2 separate regions of the Homo sapiens genome follow, and region 2 is linked to region 1. The links come from fine-mapping of genetic effects on gene expression. A gene starts in region 1. The other region holds a variant in brackets. All regions are shown on one strand. Distances are from middle to middle. Region 1 holds the start of ACADM (acyl-CoA dehydrogenase medium chain). Region 2 has its middle 28 kb from the start of SLC44A5.

What was found. PIP is the estimated chance that this variant, and not a neighbour inherited with it, causes the effect. A credible set is the group of variants that fine-mapping cannot tell apart.
Region 2: its variant is the best candidate, but not a certain one, in a credible set for the expression of ACADM in ovary (GTEx, PIP 0.85).

Annotation. Positions count from the first base shown.
Region 1 is chr1:75,719,407-75,728,624 of GRCh38, forward strand. ACADM (acyl-CoA dehydrogenase medium chain) reads left to right here and starts at 5,303. Exons shown (of 12, transcript NM_000016.6): 1 at 5,303-5,411; 2 at 8,995-9,082. The coding sequence starts at 5,382. It also overlaps a transcript of SLC44A5 not described here. RefSeq lists enhancers at 331-956, 4,689-4,778, 5,429-5,518 and silencers at 5,149-5,198, 5,249-5,298.
Region 2 is chr1:75,634,154-75,643,635 of GRCh38, forward strand. It overlaps a transcript of SLC44A5 not described here and the pseudogene LOC100421536. Among named protein-coding and RNA genes, the nearest start is that of SLC44A5, 28 kb to the left of the region's middle. RefSeq lists an enhancer at 6,099-6,258. The variant C/T (reference allele first, on the strand shown) is at 4,789.

The sequences.
Region 1 (9,218 bases):
TTTATTTTGCAAATAAATTGGTCCTAGTATAATTTATCCTTGGTAGAAATAAGAAAACTGGAGAAAAAAAAATCTTAGATTCTAGCCCTGACCACTGCTTTTGAGTTTTTATAATTTGCCTATAATTTGGACTAAATCCTGAATTATTTCCTGGCTACAAGAAGTCTCTAAAAAGGAACTTGGTTTTAATTTTCTTCATGATGCTTTTAGTTGGCTGCTTACTCGAATAGGCTCCTTTCATTTTTGTTCTGGCATACAAATTCTCTTCTGATTGTAATCCTTGTGTGGATTGTATTTCTACTATTCAAATTATTGATGCTATGTATCTTTTGTTGTTTTACTTCCGAGAAAACTAAAGTCATAGTATTCTGAAGACTAGAGAAATTCAACGAAGCCTGTCAATCTCCCTTGTTTGAAATCCCAAGGAGTATGTTGGCAATGAGAAACCAATATGGCCCAGTGGGATTTCAAAGGCTCTGGGACCATTGCAAAAAAGAAGGGTGCGTGAGACTCTACACATGAATTAGTGGAATGTGGAGGACAAAGCAACGCCACCTAGGATGTTAATCCACCATGTGGACTTCCCCTGTTCTGGGAAGGCTTCTAAGATTTCCCCTCTCTCTATTGTTTCTTGTGTAAAAGCATGTACTTACTGTAAATCCTGCCCTTAGATCAAGACAACTTTGATGTTATTGTATTTCAATTGTCCTACATGTCCCTTCTGAGTCACCCTTTCCCTGTGGTATACAACCCCTGGGTCTGAGGGGTAATGGCACTGGGATCCACCATCTTGTCTCACTGCCGCCTGAGATGCAGACAGGGCTTCTGTTTTTAAGTCTCCATTAAATGTTTCTTTTTGAGAAACGTTAATGTGTCAGCCTCTTTCTTTAGCCTCTCAGCTTCCTTAGACTTTGGAGCGTAGGTCTGTATAGTCCTGCTTACCTTGAAATAGATGGGTTAGGGAGAAGGAACACCAGGGAGACGTTCGAATTATTTCACCTAAAAATGTAGAGAAGTTTTGTGAAACAGTGCTTAATTAATAAAAAGGTATTTCTTGAGAGATGGTTCTATTCCTACTACTGGCAAAAATGTAGATGAAAGATTGTTTGGCATGATGCCAAATATTACCCTATAAATTACTTCCTAATTGCAAAGGGAAAACTATAACTTTACCATAGAAAGAACTGTCTGTCAATAATCAAATGATCAAATAGCATTGTCAACAAAGAGTCAAACTTTGTAAAATATTTGAAGAGATTTATTCCGAGCCAAATATGAGTGATCATGGCCCACGACACAGTCCTTGGGAGATCCTGAGAACATGTGCTCAGGGTGGTTGGGGTGCAGGTTGGTTTTATATATTTTAGGGAAATATGAGACTTCAATCAAATACATTTAAGAAATACATTGGTTCAGTTCAGAAAGACAGGACAACTTGAAGCAGGGGTGGAGCTGGGGGGGTAGGCGGGGGGAGGTTCCAGGTTATAGGCAGATTTAAACATTTTCTGGCTGACACTTGGTTAAGTTTATCTAAAGACCTGGAACCAACAGAAAGGAAATGTCTGGGTTAAGATTAAAGGATTGTGGAGACCAAAGTTCTTATTGTGCAAAGGAAGCCTTCAGGTGAGAACAGAAAAGCATTCTGTTATCTCTCTCCTTCAGAGAGAAGAGATTGTAAATGTTTCTTATCAGACTTAAGGTCTGTGTTGATGTTAACATCACTGAGGTATAAAGAGGCATGTCCAACCCCCACTTCCCATCATGGCCTGAAGTAGTCTTTCAGGTTAAATTTAAATTTTAGAGTGCCCTAGCCTACGAGAAAGTCCATTCAGATAGTTGGGGGGAATTTAGAATTTTGTTTTTGGTTTACAGCAAGCTTGTCCAACCTGCTGCCCACAGACCACATGCAACCCACAGGCCACATGCAGCTCAGGACAGCTTTGCATGCAGCCCAACATAAATTTGTAAGCTTTCTTAAAACGTTATGAAATTTTCTTGCGTTTTTGTTTTGGTTTGTAGCTTATCAGTTAACATTAGTGTTAGTGTATTTTATGTATAGCCCAAGACAATTCTTTTTCTTCCAGTGTGGCCCAGGGAAGCCAAAAGATTGGACACTGCTGGCTTACACCATCACCAATAGTGGGACAAATCTGATATTAAATGCCTCCTAATGTAATACAATATTAACTACACAGTATGACCTTTGAAGTATCCTTATCCAATGTTTAATCTGAACTCCTCAAGCCTCTGGTAACTTGCAACTGATAGGAAATACAAAATCTAGAGGTACAAAATAAATAAAATCGGACAATCCAGCATTAGGGCATTCTTCATGACAACTGCTTGGTATCTTAAATTTGTTTAAAAAGACAGTTATTATTGGGAAAAATGAATTAGATTAAAAGCTTTAGATTAAAAGAAGCCAAAGAAAGTTAAAGCCCAACTTCAATGGGCAATCATTCATAGGATCCTGGTTCAAAAACAAACTATTTACAAAAGGTATTCTGGAGACAACTGGACAACTGGAGAAATGTAAATATTCTCTGGACCTTAAATAATAGTAGCGAATAATTGTTAATTTTCATTGATGTGATAAAGGTTTTATAGGAAATGGTTATATAGGAAAATGTCCTTGTAGGAGACATATAGCTAAAGTATTCTGAACTGAAGTGTCTTATCTACAACCTACAGATCTGAGAAAAATAAAACCAACAACCAAAACACACACACATAGGTACACATATAAATATATAAATAAATATGGAAAAATATTTGAATCTAGGTGATAATGATATTGAGAAGAAATTACTCAGGCCGATAGTACGAGTATGGGAGTCCTCAGTGTAAAAAGTGAAGTAGAGGTTCCTCTTCAAATGGACTTTCCTTTCCGTCTAATTAGGAATAAACAGTAACTTCTCTTAAAAGCAAAATTTATTCAAAGAACTGTGCTAACATATTGGAGGCCGAAACAATGAGGTTCGTGATCAACTCAGTATATCACTGGAGGCTATATGAGTAAGCAGCAAACTGTTTCTCATAAATGCAGAACGTTGGCGAACTGACAAACTGCGTATGCCACCCAGGAGGACTGCTGAGGGTAGTTACGATCTAGGCACAAATGTTTCTTATGATTAGGCATAATTGAAGCCTGTCAGTAACAATATGAACCTGTGATCAATTAAGCAGCTGACCAATCGTTACCACCTCCTCCCTGCTCCTGTTACCCAAAAAATAGGAAGGGCTGTGGAAGCTCTGTGGCTGCCTTTGCTCACGAGAAGCAGGGAGCTCTCTTCTTCTTCCCCTGGCCCTTTCCTTAAAACAGTTCCTTTTGTCTTAAGTTATCATTTCTACGTTCGTCCCTTCATTTGATCTCACAATGATGGTCTCAAGCAGTAACAGTAGTAACTGCTGTAACGATGGTCTCAAGTAGTAACCGTGGCAGTTGGCCACACTAACATTCTTTGATATCTGTTGGCCGTAATAAAGAAATCAATGTACTTTGTGCTCTTAGCTGCCACATTTTAGCCTAGATATTTGCCCTGGCATGCTTATACTGGTCCAAGGAAGCATTAGGCCATAGCCTGTTTTCTTCCTTATCTGGAGGTGTTTTTACCTTTCTCAGCATTCCACAAGTTGCTTCCTCCTTCCTTTGTTCTCCTCTGTCTTTGCCTCTTTTGGAAAGTTCTAAGTTGCTAGCCAATCAGGACAAGTACAGAGGTCCCCTTCCAGCCAATGGAAACCGGACACGGTAGTAGGGTGCACGTGTCAGGTTATAAATGACCCTGTCTCCTTTATGCGTGTGTGCTCTCGTGGCAAGACTACTAGCGAGCGGCAACCTTTCTGCAGAAAGTAAACTAGCCTTGCTAAGAGCTCCTTTGTCTCAGTGTTGATTTTTGCAACACTGAGCGCCCGTTCCCAACATCAGTAAGGCTTTTCTTTTTAATGAAAAGCAGCCCCAAATCCTTTTCTAAGAGCAGCCTGTGAAGTCGAGCTGCAGGCACAGACAAACAAGGGGGTAGCTTGCTTGGGTGAATGGTGGCAGGAACTACCGACTAGACATGTTTAAGATGAGGGCTCCATCTTCGCTTCTCTGCCAGCCACGTGTACAGTAAGAAGGGGTTACAATAGGCATATGGGTGATTTTGTGCTTTTCGTTCATCTTTTCTGTGTTTAAAATGTTCAGAATAAGAAATTGGAACAAAGGAGACATGAATAGACAATTCCTAATCATCTTTAAGAGTCCGCTTTGTGTTTTACTTACCACCACCACTTTGAAGGCTTTCTTGCCTATACCAGGACAAACTCAGCTCTTTATCCCTTTTCCGAATTTTCCTGGTACTTTCACTTTGAATATAGCGCTTAATTAACATTCTGCCTTGTACCTAGGACTAACACACTATAAATTCCCAGAAGACAAAGTAGGGGAATACAATAACAGGATATAGAATTTTAACAGCTAAATTAGATGAATTTATGGGTGACCTTTATTGGGCAAAAGAAAATGTTAAGTTAGTATAAGATTTAGTATAAGCTACCATCTCAAAACTCAGGGTCTCACTGGAAGAGAAAGTGACTCCAGGTAGAATTCCTCAGGGAGACATTCACTTCCATCATTCGCTGAACCAGGAGCTTTGGACAGCCTCGGATTGCACCCGCATATCCAAGGACACCACATCAGCGGACAAGTCATAAACAGCCTTGGGAATACGCGGAAAGGTCAAATTTACCTAAACAATTAAATTCTCTTTTAAATTTTAAGGAAACACAAGTATGCTTTCGCTTTAGGTAGGGCATTTGAGAGCAAAATGTACTAATACTTTGAATCCGCCAAGCAGACACGATCTGGGTTTGACCGTTCTCTCCGGGTAAAGGTGAAGGCTGACCACGGGGGCCGCTCTCCCTCCAGGCCCCAGCCACGCCCTCTAACCCAGGTTCCCGTCCTGCACCGCGCCGCAAGTCCCCCCACCGTTCAGCGCAACCGGGCCCTCCCAGCCCCGCCGCCGTCCCCCTCCCCCGCCCTGGCTCTCTTTCCGCGCTGCGGTCAGCCTCGGCGTCCCACAGAGAGGGCCAGAGGTGGAAACGCAGAAAACCAAACCAGGACTATCAGAGATTGCCCGGAGAGGGGATGCGACCCCTCCCCAGGTCGCAGCGACGGCGCACGCAAGGGTCACGGAGCATGCGTTGGCTACCCGGCGCCGGGGACCGCTGCCACCCCGCCTAGCGCAGCGCCCCGTCCTTCCGCAGCCCAACCGCCTCTTCCCGCCCCGCCCCATCCCGCCCACGGGCTCCAGTGGGCGGGACCAGAGGAGTCCCGCGTTCGGGGAGTATGTCAAGGCCGTGACCCGTGTATTATTGTCCGAGTGGCCGGAACGGGAGCCAACATGGCAGCGGGGTTCGGGCGATGCTGCAGGGTGAGAGGGAGCCCAGCGGTGCGGTGGGGCTGGAACATGGGTATTGTGGTGTCGGAGCAGGGGGCCCTGGGCCAAAAATAGGTGCGGCCGGGAGGAGTGGGAAGTCGGGCTGAGGAAGGAGCCAGCCTAGGGGCCCCCAACCTGCTTTCACGCCTCCTACCACCGGACGGAACGTAGCCTAGCGTTTCATTTTCCGTATCCTCCCGTCAGGCGACCCCGTTATAGCCGGCATCCTCTCTTTAGAATATCGTTTTTCTTTCTCTGGTAAACCCTCCAAATATTTACCGCGGGAATCCCACCTTTTTCCAAAGTGACCCCGTCTCTGTGTCAGAACCACGGGAAAAAGAAAAATGGAGCAGCTACTCCTTGAAATACTTAATGTTTAATAAGCTTTTCGTTGTAACGTTTCCACGTTGCTTACGGGAAAAAAAAAAGTAAAAAAAAAACCTGCAGAATTTTATGTGAACTTGTGTGTATATTCTAGTATTGGATCTTAATAGATTCTAAATAAGTTTGTCACTAGATGAATTTTGGTATCTTAAATATTCTTGATATGTTCACACCACTGCCATTTAGATGTCACTTAAAATTAAGTTAAAGTTATGTCTTGGACCAAAAAAGCTGCGGTTTTAGAATAATCCTAAAGAATTGCTGCCCATGTTTTGCTGGTGTTATGCAAGTTAATGTGCAGTGAAGGCAGAAATTGGGAGATTTCAGCTATTTTTAACTCCTACACCAGAAAAGCAGATTTCTCAACCTCCAAGGAAGGATCTAAAAAAAACCTGATATAGAAAACTTACACCCTTTTTCTCTTCTTTAACCCATAAAACTGACACTCTTATATTCCCAAGAAATGCACAAAAGTGTTCAATTCTAGTGGTGCTGTTTCGATATTTGGAATTTCATTGTTCTAGACAGAGAGCCCGAAGTAATAAAACCAATAGTTATATAGCATTAGGCTTTCAAAACATTATCGTACTTTAATCGTCCGAAAATACGCAGTGAGATTAGTCCCATTTTTTGGTTTTGAACGGAAGCTATAAGCAGTTTGTAAACCTGTCTACGGCCACAAATATGGTTGTGGAACCTAGATTCACATTCAGCAATTATAACTCCAGATCCCGTGCTGTTTCTGTTTTCTATTTGCAAACCACCTCTCTAATTAACTGGCTAACTTTGTTATGTAATTAACAGGTTGATGGGCATTGTATTCTGGTAATAGCAACCTTTGCACTTTGTTCTATGTAACATATTTTCCTGAACAGTCACATGTGAAGTGACTTTTTCCCTATTTAAATTCCCTCGGTTGGCCAGGTGCGGCGGCTCACGGTTGTGATCCTAGCACCTTGGGAGGCCTCGGCGGGTTGATCACTTAAGGCCAGGAGTTCGAGACCAGCCTGGCCAAAGCAGGGAAACCCTGTCTTTACTAAAAATAGGAAAAATTAGCTGGGCATGGTAGCATATGCCTGTAATCCCAGGAGGCTGAGTCTGCAGTGAGCGGAGATCTCTCCACCGCACTCTAGCCTGGGTGACAGAGGGAGACTCTGTCAAAAAAAAAAAAAAGTCCCTCAGTAGACCATTTAACCTGGTTTGAGTTCTGACTTTTGTGCATGGTATTTAAAAACGCATTTATAATAGAGTCAGGTTTTTTGTTCTGATTTTTGTGGAATGTTTTCCTTTGTTATGGAACCTAGTGACCAATTAGGATACTAACAGAAAGATCAGTATAGCAAGGTGGTTAATAGCATGCGCTCTTGATAGTAAATGTTAGAATCCTGGTTGCACTAATAGTAGAGTGACTTTGCCTAATTTAGTTGACTTTCTGAGCCTTCGTTTCTTCACATGCGAAAGTGGAATAAAAGTAATGGCTTAATCCTAGACTTGACCTGGGATTCAGTGAATTAACCTGTGTAACGCGACTGTAAATCAGAGTAGATTTGGTCTGTGACTGCTGGACAATAAGCACCAGAGAAACTGTTTCACTTTTTTTTTTTTTTTTTTTTTTGAGACGGAGTCTTGCTCTGTCACCCAGGCTGGAATGCAATGGTGCAGTCTAGGCTCACTGCAACCTCCGCCTTCCGGGTTCAAGCGATTCTCCTGCCTCAGCGTCCCGAGTAGCTGGGACTACAGGTGCGTGCCACCACACCTGGCTAATTTTTGTATTTTTAGTAGAAATGGGGTTTCACCATGTTGGTCAGGCTGGTCTCAAACCCCTGACCTCGTGATCCGCCCACCTCAGCCTCCCAAAGTGCTGGGATTACACGCATGAGCCACCCCACCTGGCACTGTTTCACTTTCAAAATAAAATTAATGAAGATGCAAAGAAAATGCGAGTTTTCATACTCTGTATGTTTTTATTACTGTAGTATGAGGTATGTTATTTGGAAAGCACTGTTTCAATTACAAATATTTGACACTCTTAATTATATTGTCACCTTACATGTAGGAATTCGTCTTTTATAAGTTGAAATTGTCATCTACAAAGACAGTTTCTTTTTACGGATTTTGAAAAACATAAGAATTTAAATAAAGAAACTTTAGTATATTCTTCAGCTGCTCTTTTCTCTTAGTATCTAAGCTTGTTAAAATTGCTGGATAGTTCAATTAAAATCTTTTACAGTGAAAATTGTGTAATTTTGACTGTCCTGAAACCTTTACTCAAGAACACCATTGTGGTTCCCAGTTTGGCAGCTTTAATAAATGCAAATTTTTACTTTTGTATCCATTAAACTGTCATGAATATAAAAATGGGTTGCAAAACAATAATATATGTATATTTGATTGTTTGTTTCTTTATATGTTCCTTTGAAGAAATATGACTATATTTCAGATCCTAAGACAAGTAGTGTATTAGTAGTTTAGAAGAGGGATGGCAAACGTGTTTGTAAAGGAACGGATAGTACATGTTTTTGGCTTTGTGAACCAGATGGTCTCTGTGGTAACTACTTAGATCTGCTGTGAAAGCGGCAATAGACAGCATGATGTGGCTGCACTGGTTTGGTGACTCCTTGCTCAGAACATTGTAAGAATCCCTGTAGACAGCAGAAAATACAGAACATGGTTTTATGCTAATTTGTTTTGTTAGAGTGGGGTATCCTAAAAAATGAGATCCTCTGAGGGGAAGGTTTCCAGAGGCATGCATGGGAGGCTCACAGTGACAGGGTATCAAAGTTGATGGACTAGGCAACTCTTGAACACAGTATGTTCACTTCCAGCCTATCGTTCTCCCCACCCCAACTCTCCAACCATTAATGTCCTAGGAGCTTGTAAGATACCCAGAATAGTGGTCCTACATCTACTACTACCCTTGACTGTTGTTTGTCCTAAACCCTCCACTTCAGTAGTATAAATACCACTGACTTTATTTTCATTACTTTTTAAAAACATCTCCTCTGTAATAGGAATTTATATAACTGATAATTGGCTTATTTAAATTATGATTGAAGGCATTTAAATAGTGATGACTTTAAAAACTATGAGTATGGTCAAACCAGTTGCTGTACTCACTTATGATTATCAGTAGTCTCTTATCTGATTAATGTTTAACTTATCAAATTTATTTTAATAAAAGTGTTCTTTACAGGTCCTGAGAAGTATTTCTCGTTTTCATTGGAGATCACAGCATACAAAAGCCAATCGACAACGTGAACCAGGATTAGGATTTAGTTTTGGTATATGTTCGGTTCTATCTTTTGACTTTAAACTTATACATATGAAGCTTTATATGTTTTGTTTGGAATATGTTTGTAAATAAACTTAATAATGTCTTTCAATGAGTAGAACCAGTCCACTGTCCACAGATAATTT
Region 2 (9,482 bases), 85 kb before region 1:
TTCATCAAGGATATTGGTCTAAAATTCTCTTTTTTGGTTGTGTCTCTGCCCGGCTTTGGTATCAGGATGATGCTGGCCTCCTCAAATGAGTTAGGGAGGATTCCCTCTTTTTCTATTGATTGGAATAGTTTCAGAAGGAATGGTACCAGTTCCTCCTTGTACCTCTGGTAGAATTCGGCTGTGAATCCAACTGGTCCTGGACTCTTTTTGGTTGGTAAGCTATTAAGCTGGAGGCATCACGCTACCTGACTTCAAACTATACTACAAGGCTACAGTAACCAAAACAGCATGGTACTGGTACCAAAACAGAGATATAGATCAATGGAACAGAACAGAGCCCTCAGAAATAACGCCGCATATCTACAACTATCTGATCTTTGACAAACCTGAGAAAAACAAGCAATGGGGAAAGGATTCCCTATTTAATAAATGGTGCTGGGAAAACTGGCTAGACATATGTAGAAAGCTGAAACTGGATCCCTTCCTTACACCTTATACAAAAATGAATTCAAGATGGATTAAAGACTTAAATGTTAGACCTAAAACCATAAAAACCCTAGAAGAAAACCTAGGCATTACCATTCAGGACATAGGCATGGGCAAGGACTTCATGTCTAAAACACCAAAAGCAATGGCAACAAAAGACAAAATTGATAAATGGGATCTAATTAAAGAGCTTCTGCACAGCAAAAGAAACTACCATCAGAGTGAACAGGCAACCTACAAAGTGGGAGAAAATTTTCGCAACTTACTCATCTGACAAAGGGCTAATATCTAGAATCTACAATGAACTCAAACACATTTACAAGAAAAAAACAAACAACCCCATCAAAAAGTGGGCGAAGGATATGAACAGACATTTCTCAAAAGAAGACATTTATGCAGCCAACAGACACATGAAAAAATGCTCACCATCACTGGCCATCAGAGAAATGCAAATCAAAACCACAATGAGATACCATCTCACACTAGTTAGAATGGCAATCATTAAAAAGTCAGGAAACAACAGGTGCTGGAGAGGATGTGGAGAAATAGGAACACTTTTACACTGTTGGTGGGACTGTAAACTAGTTCAACCATTGTGGAAGTCAGTGTGGCGATTCCTCGGGGATCTAGAACTAGAAATACCATTTGACCCAGCCATCCCATTACTGGGTATATACCCAAAGGACTATAAATCATGATGCTATAAAGACACATGCACACGTATGTTTATTGTGGCACTATTCACAATAGCAAAGACTTGAAATCAACCCAAATGTCCAACAATGATAGACTGGATTAAGAAAATGTGGCACATATACACCATGGAATACTATGCAGCCATAAAAAATGATGAGTTCATGTCCTTTGTAGGGACATGGATGAAATTGGAAATCATTCTCAGTAAACTATTGCAAGGACAAATAACCAAACACCGCATGTTCTCACTCATAGGTGGGAATTGAACAATGAGAACACATGGACACAGGAAGGGGAACATCACACTCTGGGGACTGTTGTGGGGTGGGGGGAGGGGGGGAGGAATAGCATTAGGAGATACACCTAATGCTAAATGACGAGTTAATGGGTGCATCACACCAGCATGGCACATGTATACATATGTAACTAACCTGCACATTGTGCACATGTACCCTAAAACTTAAAGTATAATAATAATAAAAAAAAAATGCAAGCTCTGATTTACACTCAGTCCAAATCTTGACTCTGCCATTTAATAGGTATGAAACTTAACTTTGGGGAGGGATTATTTATGTATTTATTTTTAACTTGTTTAAATTTATGGGGTACAAGTGTAAATTTGTTACATTCATAGATCGTGTAATTGTAACGTCAAGGCTTCAGGGTATCCATCACCTGAATAACATACATTTTCCCCATTAAGTAATTCCTCATCATGCACCCCTGCCACACCCACCCATTCACCCCTCGGAGTCTCCTTTGCCTATCATTTCACTCTCTACATCCATGTTTACACATTTTTTAGCTTCCACGTATGAGTGAGAACATGCGATGTTAGGCTTTTTGTGTCTGGCTTGTGAAACTTAACTTTTCTGAACTGTTATCATATATATAAAATGATGGTGATTACAGCTCACACTTCCTAAGACTGTTATAAGAATTAAGATATTATATACAAGAAAAGCACTTACAATAAGATCTGGCACAGAGTAAACAATAAGTAAATGTTAGATAATATTATTTATAAAGATTTCCCAAAGTAATATTTATAAAGTATAAGCAGACTTGTAAGAGCATCTGACATACCTGAGTTTGAATTCTGACTCTACCATTTGCTAGATATAGGGATTTAAACATGATACTTAGCCTGTAAACCCAAAATCCTGATTTAGAATTCAGATAATACTACTTCCTTTCTGTTTTAAGAAGTAAATGAAATGGAGTGTATAAAACAACACTGTGCCTGAGGAACTGCAATCATTTAATAAATGACTAGTTTTGTTTTGCTGATGTAGTTCTTGTTTTTATTATTAGCTTTGCCAATAAGGAATTTTAATCCAGATAAGAAACAAAGAAATAAATAACTACAGTATAATGCAAGTAAATGTCATGGAAATAATAAAGTTAACAAATGCTTTGACAGTTTATGAGTAGGAATGATCAGTGTGAGCTGCAGTAATAAAGAATACTTTCTGAAACAGATAACATTTCTATAAAAGAAAATAGAGAATAGGTAGATATCCCAGGCAAAAAGAAGTATGACCTCAGGAAAGGTAAACCAAAGCACAAAAGCAGGAAGAACAAGGCTTATTTGAGCAGTAGAGAAAATGGGCACAATTAGTAGATTTATTATAAAGATATTCATCAAATTATTAATCCAGACCTGCACTGACCAATATGGTAATCATTAGCTGTATGTGACTAAAGAGTTCTCGAAATATGGCTAGCATAACTAAGGGACTGAATTTTTAATTTAACATAATTTTAACTAATTTAGATTTAGAAACTGAAACAGTTCATAGGAGCCAGCAACTCCATTCCTCAGTATATATTCAAAATAATTAAAAACAAAAACTCACACCAATACTTGCACAAAAATGTTCATTGCAGCACTATTCACAGTAGCCAAAAGGTGGAAACAACCCAAACATCCATCAATATATGAGTGGATAAGCAAAATGTGGTCTATACATGCTATGGGATATAATTCAGCCATAAAAAGAAATGATCCTGATACATGCCACAACACTGATGAACCTCAAAAAACATTATACTAAGTGAAATAAGCCAGACCCAAAAGGACAAAAATTGCACTTACATTAAGTATCTAGAATAGTCAAAGTCATAGAGAGAAGAAGTAGCGTAGAGGTTACCAGGGGCTAGTGGAAGTGAGGAATGGAGAGTTATTGCTTAATGGGTACAGAGTTTCTGTCTGGGTGATGAAGAGTGTTTGGAAATAATGGTATGGTTGTACAACACTGTGAATTTAGTTAATGACACTGAATTGCAACTGAAAAATGTTTAAAATGACAATATTTTTGGTGATATATATTTTATTACATTAAGAAATTAAGCAGAGTAAAATATTTTTCTGATAAACATATCTTCATTGTATTTAAAGTTTATCAATTCCGGGTCAAACTGGGGGAGTGGAGAAGACAAATTAAAAAATATTTTATTGGGAAAATTTATAAGAATTGAAACATGGGAATACCCACTATACACAGACATGCCTTTAAAAGGACTATCCATGAGATCCCCTTAAATTAGCCTCTTCCAAAAAGATATTAAAATAGTGCTTGAAATTTTAATTCAAAAGTATAGTGAATTTCTTTCCCTCTATTACCTAGTACCTCACTGATATAAATCCGCCTATGCAGTTGACATAGTTTTGCCAAATTATTGTATATTCTCTTGACCTTCCTTCTTAAAATATTTATTATAATTGTGTAATAATAGCTAACATTTACATGGCAATTGTTGTATTAACTCTTTTAATCCTCATGACATCTCTATGCAGTAAATATGATACAAAATAAAAAGACTTAAATAATATGACATCATTTATTGTCTTATTATAATATTAGAAGCTAATAGTACGATTAAAGCAAGTTTCATGTTTCAAGTATAGTGACTCTGATGGCCATCACTGCTCCAAAATCACACAAGTGAAACATAGAAGCATTTGTATGATTTAACATAGTAAGTAGAATCTAGTTTTAATAGCTATTTTATAACCTGAAATGTATTTATTCTTATAATAACAAACACAGTGTTAATATGTATTAAAGTTGTAGGATCTTAATATCAAAACAAAATGAAATAAAACCTGCAAGGAATCAGGAAAAGTTCAACACTGTCCCATGAGGATTTATAGTGAGGAAAGTGGTGCAGTCTAGGTTTAACTAAGGTAGGAAAGCCAACGAAAGAGCCCAGGCTGTGTTACACAGAGACAGCAATTGAATATACTCCACAGCTGAAATCATAAAGTTTCTCAAGCAACCCATTAATAATTAAATTTGCTTTCTCTGATAAATCTTGTCAGCCTGCTCCAAGGAAAACGGTCCTTCTTTCTTTGTAGTTTTCAGCCAATCAACTTGCCCATGGACAAAAAACAAAATTCATTATTTTTATGACTATACATAGCTTTCCACTATGTATATTTACCACATTTTCTTTATCCATTCCTTCATTTTCGACACTTAGATTCATTCCAATATCTTGGCTGTTGTGAATAGTGCTGCAATAAACATCAGAATGTAGATATCTTCTGCCAATTGCAACAATATGAATGAACCTGGAGGACACTGTGTTAAGTGAAATAAG[C/T]CAGGCACAGGAGCACAATTATCACATAATCTCACACGTATGTGGAATCTAAACAAGTTGATTCATGTAACTGGAGAGTAGATGAGTGATTTCCACGGGCTGAGGTGGATGGGGGGAAGAGAGTTGGAAAGATGTTGGTCAAAGGATATGCAATTTCAGTTAGATGAGAGGAATAACTTCAAGAGATCTATCATACAACATGGTTATAGTTAATAACAATATACTGTATTCTTGAAAAATGCTAAGATAGTGGATGTTAAGTGTTCTCACCACAAAATGATAACTATGTGAGGTAATGCATACGTTAATCAGCTAGATTAGGTGAATCCACAATGTATGTATACATCAAAACATACTGTGATAAACACATGTAATTTTATCTGTCAATTTAAAACAAAACAAAACAAAATTATTGTTCTACCAGTCTATAGTTCATGTTTTAATAAAGCCTTCTTTACTTTTGTTCCATGATAATCAACCTATGCTTGATACAGGGAAAATACTACCTCTCTCAAATCTAAGTAAACTCAGCTCAGTTTCTAGCCAAACTAAATACCTCTAAATTATTCTTTGACTGTTATTCCGATAAGCCTCTGAGCCCTTAGAAGCATGCAGCCTAAGAAAGTTTTTCATCCAGACCCACCGTGTTCTGTCTTGCCTTTGCTCACTTCCCCAGTGCATGCCATTATACAGGGATCAAACTCATGGGCTTTTACATGCTAAACCTGGCTCTTAGCCATGTGTGTTTTTGTTCACAGTTGCAGTTGAATTAATGTTGGGAAATTGTTTTCTATGGTCTCTGACAAGTTACAGGTAACTGGGAATCTGCTTGGCCCTTTATCTTTGTTTAGTTGTTTGTCTGACTGTCATAGAAATTCTGATATCTCCTGATATCTCTTAACCAGATGATGAGATAAGGGGGTAGTCAGATTTGGCTGGCCTCAGCCTTGGGGTTGAGGAATTGCCCTTGTCACATCTGCTTGATTTGTTAACTTTTCCAACCATTGAAAGAAACTTCATGTTGTTTGTCTTATGATCTATAATTGCTTTGGTCAGTTATTTTTAGGTCGTTGTACTGAAAGGGGGAAAAGGCCTTTTACTTTCCTTAGAAAATAAAGATATGTAAGTTACTTGTTACTGTGTGGCAAACCACCCCAAAACACAGTGCCTTGAAACAGCAACAGTTTCGCCAAATTTTTGTTGAGTTTCTTCTGCTGATCTTGCCAAGCCTAACTCATGTGTTTGTAGTCATCCCTGTATTCAGCTGGGGCTGGATGATATCATACAACTTCTCTTACATGTCTACAGTCTCAGCTTGGATGGTTGGACCAGCTAAGCCAGCTGGGTCTCTCTCTATGAGGTCTTTCATCCTGGCTTCTTCACATGGTGGCAGAAGTGCTCCAAGAGAGCAAGCCCCAGTGCACACATGCTTATCAAGCCTTTGCTTGCTGTATATCTGCTGATATCTTGTTGGCTGGAGCAAGTCAATGGTCAAGCCCAGAGTAAATGTGACAGGGACTACACAAGCATATGGAGACAGAGAAGTGTGATTCATTGGGAAACCATCACAGAAGGAAGCTTGTCTTTATAATAGTCTGTTTATAATGGTAGTTCTTTCTGTACCTGTGAGTGATTCTACCTCTCATTCTCTCTCTCTCTCTGGGGGAAATTTTGAATATTAATTGATCATAACAATCTATCATTTGTGCATGCTATAGAAATATCCAGTTCAAACAGACCTTCATAGGAAGAAGATGCATGCAAATATTAAAACCAGTTTTTCATGGATCATGAAGTAGAGTTGTGCCTTCTGAAAGAGCTTTGCTTGGTTTGTATTACAATTGTATGCAGGCTCGAATGTCCTTAAAATGGGAATAATTGCTTCTGGCTTGTCTGGGGCTTCATGGCCTTCTGAGGAAACTAAAGGATTCAGAGTACATGAATTTTTTATTCTTTCCTCTTGGAAAATATTAATAAATAAAAAAGTCCCACGGAAATAGTCACAAATGAGCCAAGTGAAGATGTGAGGAAGAACTTCATGTGAACTATGACAAAATATTATAAAATCTTACAGTAGAACCCATAAGTTGATCATGTCTGAACAAGTCTTCCCCAAAAAGGACATAATAAAATACAAAGAAAGGCAACTTTAGACTCTCCCAGAGTTCTTTCCTTGCCCAGAGATATGACAAGATACTTCTGCTGAGTATGAAACATTTTCTAAACAAATGGCATATTTGTGTCTATTACTTTTTTATTTTTAAATATTTTATTATATTTGAATAAAATTTGTCTCCATCATAATCTTACATGTTTAAAGCATTTAAGAACACTTTTGTTAAGAAAGAGTCCATAGGCTTCAGACTGCCAAAGATGTTGGTGGTGCAAAACATGAGGAATCTCTTAACATTAGTATCGTCTCCGGGCATAAACTCTTCATGTGTATATGAGCTTGATTTTTGTACATTGCTTTGTGGAGAATAAGCACTACTTCTACTGCCAATCTTTCTAAAGAGTCTTTGACTTCCACTGCCAGCAGAAGTTGGGTAATAAATGTAAACATTGTGATCTTCTGCACTGACTGGCTTTTCTACAAATGGCTTTTGAAAAACTTCCTCATTTACTTCTACATGATCTTCCCCTTCAATCAGATTACATTCTTTGGGATTATTTGGGTCACGGTTCAAAATTGCATAACAAGGAAGTAAAATAACTTCAGCTTGAAGAATACTATATACCTCTCTCCAATCTTGTATGAGATACTGCATATTCAAGTCATTGATTACAAATGGATTCCTGAGTTTTGCATAGGCAACCACTTTGTCCAGTGGAAATCCTTTAGAGTGCAAAGAAAAAAGACAATCACATAAAGGCCAGTTTTCCACTGGTTCCCTCAAAATAACCTCCTCTTCAAATACCACTACTGTGATATATTTAAATAAGGAGACCCATTCAAGAATTTCCTTCATTGGTTTGGATTTGGATTTCTTTGCCATGGAACATATTCCAACCACAATCTGCCTTTCTGGTGGAGAATCATCTTCCTCCTCATCATCTTCATCTGCATGGTGGAAGAAATGTTGATAATTTCCAGGATTTATTTCTGTGTCTTCTGGTCCAATGAAGAATCTGGGGGCTTCACTAATTTTTTATTTTATTTGATGTAGATATAATTGAAGTGATATATATTAAAACTGCCTGTAAATAAATAGCATCAGAAGAAAGCATTCTCCTTATGTTAGCTGACACACAGGTCTGTGACAGCTTGTTTCTGCTTATACAATCACTTGATATTATGATGACTTTTGGCAAATGCTCTTTTGTTCTTAGATACCATTGCTTCATTGTTGATATCAAAGTTGTTGTTGCAATTCAAAATACAAAGACAGTGAGGCTACTGCTTTCTTGAGTTGATACAGCAATCTTTTTACCTGCCACGAATATGGTCATCACGTGAGCAGCTGTGAGATGGTCAAGCCCATTCAGGTCTAGGTTTCCCCCTTTCATTCTGGAGGCAGGGCTGAAGTGTTCGTCAAGATTTGTGTCTATGTCTGAAAAAAAATGTAATTTAATTATAAAGTCTCATGGTTAAACGAATTCCTATTCTGATTGACTTATAGAGACGAATAAGAAATTCAATAATCTTCAGGAAGAAGAGAGAAAAATTTATATCCTAATGTTTTAAGTGTGCTGACCATTTATAAAAGCTTGAGAGGCTTGCTGAAGCCATAACTCAATAAAACAAGAAGGAGAAGTATGAGGAGGAGGAGGAGGAGCTTACTATAAATTAAATTAATGGCCTTGGTTGCAAAGTCTCAAGAGGCAGAAAAATATAAGTAGTTATCAGTTTGGAAAACAGTGGGGGTAGGGGAGAATTCTAAGAGAACAGTACTTTTAAACAAAAATTGGAAAGTTTTAATATTTGGTAAATACAGAAAAAATTGTAAACAAATAAGTTTAGGTTATATTTCTATCAAGGCGAATCACTGGACAAATTAAATTGGTTTGGTAATTTGGCTTTAAAAATAGCTACATGTCTTCCCCTGATTTCATCACAGTGTGAAAAATGTTGGCATATTATTTTCTCATGAGAAACTTAATTAATTCTGATTTGCTAGATTTCCTATACTGATTTTTACTTCCATTAACTGTTAAAAATTATAAAATTATCATTCAACCATCTTTGGAAAGATTTGCTCTTGTGAGCTTCAGATAATACCATAAATCATATAGATCTAGTAACTTTACTTATACTACCTATATCAAATTTTAAATATCATATTTGTCTGATGAACTGTTTTAAGATCAAAAAGGATTGTGTTTCTCTTTAATGTCAACCTCAAACAATTTCCAAAATCTCTGGCTGACTTCAAGACCCCAGACTATTGTTAAACTAATTAATTTCATTAAAGTAGTCTTTGGTTATCTGGATATTTTCTAAGTAGAACTAAATTCATAAATATAGAATATAAAAACAAGCAAATATCGTTTAATTATATGTATATATCTTATTCATTTACATTCTAGATTGTCCATTAGTTAACATGATAGAAAAAAGATGTGTAAATACCTTTAGGTCATTGGTTTGGCTGTGTCCCCACTGAAATCTCATCTTGAATTATAGCTCCCATAATCACCATGTGTCATAGGAGGGGCCCAGTGAGAGGTAATTGAATCATGGGGGCAGGTTTTTC